Linked DNA regions of Homo sapiens. The protein of the gene in region 2 interacts with the protein of the main gene of each other region in a biochemical or structural test. Each region holds a gene or a part of one and is shown on either strand. Other genes may lie near its edges.

The links. Proteins that work in one complex are often made in the same cells at the same time.
Region 1: of the proteins of CDC7 (region 2) and RAD18, one has a biochemical effect on the other in vitro, tested with the Homo sapiens proteins (one study listed by BioGRID).

Annotation. Positions count from the first base shown.
Region 1 is NC_000003.12:8,956,973-8,960,472, forward strand, and holds part of RAD18 (E3 ubiquitin-protein ligase RAD18), read right to left. Parts: intron 2,030-3,500; coding exon 1,948-2,029; intron 1-1,947. UniProt on the Homo sapiens protein: E3 ubiquitin-protein ligase involved in postreplication repair of UV-damaged DNA. Postreplication repair functions in gap-filling of a daughter strand on replication of damaged DNA.
Region 2 is NC_000001.11:91,517,851-91,521,350, reverse strand, and holds part of CDC7 (cell division cycle 7-related protein kinase), read right to left. Parts: intron 2,819-3,500; exon of another isoform or gene 2,676-2,818; intron 1,222-2,675; coding exon 1,072-1,221; intron 1-1,071. UniProt on the Homo sapiens protein: Kinase involved in initiation of DNA replication. Phosphorylates critical substrates that regulate the G1/S phase transition and initiation of DNA replication, such as MCM proteins and CLASPIN.

The DNA of each region.
Region 1 (3,500 bases), on a different chromosome or scaffold from region 2:
ATAAAGGCATATAGATCAGAAAGGAATGAGTAAAACTGTCTTTATCCACAAATGACATGATTGTGTATGCAAAAATTTCTAAGGAATCAACAAAAAAGATGCTGGAATTAAAGTGAATTTACTGCAGTCAGAAGACGAAAGGTCAATATAAGTTATATTTCTTTGTGCAAGGTCTGTGCAATGAAAATCAAACAACACTGTTGAGAGAAATAAAGATAGAGAAGTGTATCATATTCATACACTGAAGACTCGGCATTGTTAAGATGTCAATTCTCCCAAATTGATCTCTAGATTCAATACAATTCCAGTGAACATCCCAGCAGGCTTTTGGTAGAAATTGACAACCTGATTTTAAGTTATACATGGAAATGCATTTAAAATGCAACGATCCTAAAAAAAACGAAGAAAAAAAAGTTGGAGGACTTACAATGCCTGACTTCAAGACTTACTACAAAGCCACAGTAATCAAGATAGTGTGGTACTGGCACAAGGATAGACATATATGAGTCTAGCATATAAGCATTTTAAAATATTGTACCTTGAGGTATTTACTGCAATAGGGGTTATCCTATCATTGTTCAGGAGTTAGACAAACAGTTTACAGATTATTTAGGTTCATGCTCTTTCCTGTTCTCTATTTTCAAGTTGATTTATCTTGGAAAGCTAAAGCAACAGTAAACTTAGGCCTAAACAATTGGTTTTAGTGGGCAGTAGTTTTGGTGAAAAACTACTAAGTTTCTAAGATCAATGGAATAGAAGAGTCCAGAAATAGACTACAGATGGCTAGCTGAGGTCATACTGACTGAGATGGGGAGAAATTTATCAGATAATGAAAATGTTCAGTATCTTAATTGCAGTAGTAACACAGCATACACATTTGTCAAAATTCATGAACACTTTTATACCTTAATGTGCACTTAAAATGGATGTATTTTATTGTATGTAAATTACACCCAAATAAAGATGATGTTAAAATATATTTTAAAACAATCTCCAAAACTTATCTTGGTTTTTAATGTGAATCTTGTCTGGAAGAAAACTAACATTGTTAAGGACTCATAATGTGCCGGACAGTGAGTTCTGCACATTTAATTCTCACAAACATTTTCTAAAGTAGTAAATTCTCACCCGATTTTCAAGAGTCAAGCCCAAGGGCATCTGCAATGCCCGTGCTGCCGTCACTGCTACCCTCTTACTATGTCTTCTCCACAGAAACTTTTCCACCAAAGCTACTACCAACTAAAACCAATTTCTTAGGCCTAAGTTGACTGTTTTTAACTTTCCAAGATAAATCAACTTGAAAATAGAGGACAAGAAAGATCATGAACCTGAATAACCCATAAACTGTATGTCTAGCTCCTCAACAATGATAGGGTAACCCCTATGCACTAAATATCTTAAGGTACGATATTTTTAAATGCTTATATACTAGACTCTTAAAGAGAAGTACAAACAAATTCCAACATGAGTCTTTCCAGCGTCACATAGCAGTTAAGGTATAAAACTGTCTGTAATAAAGTCAGTGGTAGAATTCTCCCACTGGGGCAATATTCTTATTGTTACAGATTTTTAAACTTTGAAATTCTATATCAAGTACTACTTGGTGGAACCACCTATCTGTTATCCTGTTAAAAACAAAAATTCTGAAACTTAACGTCAAAAAACACTTGGCAAATAAAGAACCACTTATTGTGACCAAAAATTTTACTGCCATAAATGCTATAAGAATCATAAAAATATCAAAGAGGAACGAGGTAGAAAATATAGAAGCCTTGTAAAAACCTTCAATATTCAAGAGGAAGGCAGTGAAAAAGACCTTCTGAAAAACTACAAGATAGAAGAGCTAAAGGTGAAACATAAATATGTGCACATATCTTTGGTGTTAAATTAACACTACCTCATGTAAAAATCGCAATTTACTAACTCACAGGAACAAAACATACTTACAGTTATGTGAACACTGAGGTATTATCATTGCAATGTTGAAATACTCGAAGCAAATTCCACACCGCAGCAAATCATCTATTGTCTGAAATGCAAATATGCATATATACATATCAGAAAGACATCAAAATTGGAAGTCCTGTCACAAAACTTTTTCTCTATCCCCTAAAAAAAAAATCAAACTCTTTGTCAAATACACAAATTCAAAAGCTAACTCCAGATAAACTGCAAGGGATCTTGACAAATAAATAAAAACTTCTCTCATATGACTCTTATACATTCAGTCTCAGGTTGCCCAAATTGCTTTAGACAGCTAAAGATGATGGCACACCGATTCTTGTGCCATATTGTCATCCCTTCACATAAGGGCTACTGTACTTCTGTTCCACTTCTAATGCGCTTCCAGCTCTTACTCCAAGCCTCCTCCTCTTCAGACTCCAACACCTAGCCTATAGTCACTATTGGGTGAAAGGTGGCCATTGCCACCACACAAGTTAAGAATCAAATCAAAGAATGTTAAAGCCAAACTCCAGAAACTGTCTAGTCAAAAGAGGAAACTGGTATCAAAAGCAGGCACACAATAGTAGGCATCAGTCAAGCCAAGACCAAAATTCCTGTCTCCCGTCTGGCAGTCCAGTGCTTTCGGCATGGTACTACACATGCAGCCAAATGAGGAAGCCTGGAAAGAGCTGGGGCAGTGAAAGCAGAGGAAGGGAAAGTGGACAACTTGGAAAGAGAGATGTGTGCCAACCTGGAATGCAATCCAAACAGGAACGGAACTACTCTGGCAACCTAAAATCTTTCAAATTGTTTAAAATAAAATATTATTCCATTCAACAGAAATATTTTTTAAAAGGAGGAAGCTCTCGACGGGAGGATCGCTTGAGTCCAGGAGGCGTAGGTTGCAGTGAGCCCACATCGCACCACTATACTCCAGCCTGCATGACCGAGTGAAACTGTCTCAAAAAAAAAAAAAAAAAAGAGGAAGCTCTCCATCATACTGATATGAAAAGATTGCCAAGATAAGTGAAAAAAGGAAATAAGGTATAGACAGTACATATACTATGCTACGGTTTGTTTAAAAGGAAGAGGTGAGTAAGAATGTATTCTAATAGGCCTAGCATGGTGGCTCTGTAATCCTAGCACTTTGGGAGGCCAAGGCAGGAGAACTGCTTGAGTCCAGGAGTTTGAGACCAGCCTGGCAAAATAACAAAAATCCATGTCTATAAAAAATTTAAAAATTCGTTGGGAGTAGTGGCGCATGCCTGTAGTCCCAGCTACTCAGGAGGCTGAGGCGGAAGGATTGCTTTAGCCCAGGAGTTCAAGGCTGCAGTGAGCCGTGATTGCCACTGCATTCCAGTCTGGGCGACAGTGAGACCCTATCTCAAAAAAGAAAAAAAGGAAAAAAGAATGCATTCTATTTTCATTGTAAATGTAAATAATGAGAAGATAAACAAGAAGTCATAAATAATGATCAGGGCCAGGAACATGGTAAGAAGGAGACTTTTACTTTTTATTTTATGTGTATTTTGAACCATGTGAACCTATTACCTGAA
Region 2 (3,500 bases):
TTTTTGCAGTGGTTCTTAAACACCCATAGTTTCTTAGTCAGAATCACTTGCTTTTTCAAACTAACAAGGCTGGAGCCTTCCTAAGTATCTTGTTTTTCTGAATCATATTTTCCAAGAATAGGCTGAGTGGGCAGGCATATGTATTTCTTAAAGATTCTCAGATAATTCTGACATGCAACTCTGGTTAAGACCCACTGATCCTGGGGTTGAGCACAAGACAGCCCAGCTACTCTTGAGGTAGGCTGGCTGAAACTTTGTCTCCTGAGGTGTTCTGTATTGTATGGTAGTAAGCTGAGTCAATCCCACTTATTCCTTGGAAAGTATTAACTATAACTGAGCGTGGAAAATAAACATTAAATGGGCACTTGAGTTCAGATTGTTGGCCAGAGCAAGGCTGAGATAATTCTTATGTGCCCTATGAAGTACACTGCACATCCCAGTCTTGAAGAACTTGCGTGGCTAAGGAGATGACATCCAAGTCCAATATATGCTTACAATAATATCCCATCAGTTAAGGCCTTCTATGCATTCTGCTTCTCTGCTACCGTAAACCTACACAACCTGACAACACACATTTCCATTCTCTTCCCTAGTCCTTATTACACTGTATTAATAATTAACTGTTTACTTGTTAGTATAGCCTAAGATCATTTAAGGCAAGGACACTCTAAGTACCAAGACATAGTGCATCTGATGTTTAAAAGACAATAAAAAAGTAAAACATATTACAAAGTAAAACATGCCTTTAATAAAAGGTAAATTTATGTAATAAAAGTCAAACCATAACTAAAAGGAGTTAAGATTTTACTCCTTATTCTTATAAAATTATAAAGGTAAACTTTAAATACTGCAACAGTGTATTACTTTGTGCTTAATAAGATTAAATGATTATATGTATAGAGAGGTGATAAATTTATTTTCAAGCAACTGAAGAATTTTCTACTTAATATTAGAGAACTTTATCAAGACTGAATGTTTATTTGTAAAGAAAATTTCACAATAATTTATTAAGTGATTTGTAGGAGATAATCAAAGGCATTTTGTTTGGTTCTATAATACAAAACTGCTTACCAAAAGTTTTAGCAGCTTGGATAGTTTCTCTGGATCCCCTAATTGTCATAATTTGGGCCAAAGCAGTTAAATCATCACTTGCTTTATAAAATGGATATCGTCCACTAAGCAAAGAAAGAAATATGACACCTGCAGACCACATGTCAATTGCTGCAACAGAAGACAAATTTTAAAAATAAATTTCAAATCTATAATTTTATCATCTAAATCAATAGTCCTCAACATTTATTATGCATTAGAATCACCTTGGGAGCCTTAAAAATTTCAGATGCCCAGACCCAAAGATTTTGATTGAACAGTTCTGAAGTAGGGCTCAGGCATCAATGTTTTAAAAAAGTTCCTCAGGTGATTTTAATGTACAACCAGGACTGAGAATCCTCACTGCAAAATATGTTTTCTTTCTTGAGCAACGTGTTGGTAAATTTAAAAGGATATTTAATCACTAGGAAACACTAAGTAAACGCACATTTTATAGGATCAAAAGGAATCCAAAAATAGCTATGTGGGAAAAAATCTGAATGATCCTTGAGAATTACATACCATACTGGTCAAAGTGCTTTCATTTTAGTGAAAAGTAATGAACATTAGAAGCTCTTCTTCAGCTGACACTAGCACCAACTACTGCTATAGAAACTTTTAAAAAATTACTTTTTTATTTTTTTGTGACTGTGAAGACTTTAATTTTTCTGAGTACACAGTAGGTGTATATATTGATGGGGTATATAAGATGTTTTGATACAGGCATGCAGTGTGTAATAATCACATCCTGGAAAACAGGGTATCCATTCCCTCAAGCATTTATCCTTTGTGTTACGAACAATCCAATTATATTCTTTTCTTTTTTTCTTTTTGAGACAAGGTCTCCCTCTGTGGCCCAGACTAGAGTGCAGTGGCACAGTCTCAGCTCACTGCAATCTCTGCCTCCCAGGTTCAAGCAATTCTCATGCTTCAGCCTCTTGAGTAGCTGGGATTACAGGCATGTCACCATGCCCAGCTCTTTTTTTTTTTTTTTTTTTTTTTTTTGTATTTTTAGTAGAGACGAGGTTTTGCCACATTGGCCAGGCTGGTCTCAAGCTCCTGGGCTCAAGTGATCTGCCTGCCTCAGCCCCTCAAAGTACTCTTTTAGTTATTTTAAACTGCACAATTAAATTACTGACTATAATCCCCCTGCTGTGCTATCAAATACTAGGTCTTAATTCATTCTTTTTTTTTTTTTTTCGAGATGGGGTCTGGCTCTGTTACCCAGGCTAGAGTGTGGTAGTGTGATCTCGGCTCACTGCAACCTCCGCCTCCCAGGCTCAAGTGATCCTCCCACCTCAGCCTCCTGAGTAGCTGGGACCACAGATGCACACTACCACATCCAGCTACTTTTTTGTATTTTTGGTAGAAATAGGGTTCTACCATGTTGCCCAAGCTGGTCTCGAGTGCCTGAGCTCAAGCAATCCACCTGCCTTGGCCTCCCAAAGTGCTGGATAATTCATTCTTTATAACTATTTTTTGTACCCATCAGCTGTCCCCACATCCCCCACACCCTCCCACCACCCTTCTCAGCCTCTGGTAACCATCTTTCTGCTCTCTATGGGTTCAATTGTTTTAATTTTTAGATCCCACAAATTAGTGAGAACATGCAACTCTTGTCTTTCGGTGCCTGGCTTATTTCACCTGACATAATGATCTCCAGTTCCATCCATGTTGTTGCAAATGACAAGATCTTCTTTTTCGTGGCTGAATAGTACTTCCATTGTGTGTAAGTACCACATTTTCTTTATCCATTCATCTGTTGACGGACACTTAGGTCGCTTTCAAATTTTGGCTATTATGAATAGTGCTTCAACAAACATGGGAGTGCAGATACCTCTTCGGTACATTGATTTCCTTTCTTTTGGGTATATACCCAGCAGTGGGATTGTTGGATCATGTAGTAGCTCTATTTTTAGTTTTTTGAGGAACGTCCAAATTGTTTTCCATAGTGGTTGTACTAATTTACATTCCCACTATAGAAACTTTAATCTTCTGAATTCTGGTAGTTAAAGATTACGACTAGCTCAACTTGATGTTAAAAAGCTCTTTTTTTTTTTTCTTAAAGTTGACATCTCTCTTAATTGTTGACTTCCTAGTATCACCAGGTTATCTGCTCTCTGTTCCTTGGGCTACTGTATCACCTTTTTTTTTTTTTTTTTTTTTTTGAGACTGAGTCTCACTCTGTTGCTCAGGCTGGAGTGCAATGGTGCGATCTTGGCTCACTGTAACCTCTGCCTCCCGGGTTCAATTCTCCTGCCTCAGCCTCCCCAGTAGCTGGAACTACAGGTGTGTGCCACCATGCCCTGCTAATTTTTTGTACTTTTTAGTAGAGACGGGATTTCGCCATATTGGCCAGGCTGATCTCGAACTCCTGACCTAGTGATCTGCCTGCCTTGGCCTCCCAAAGT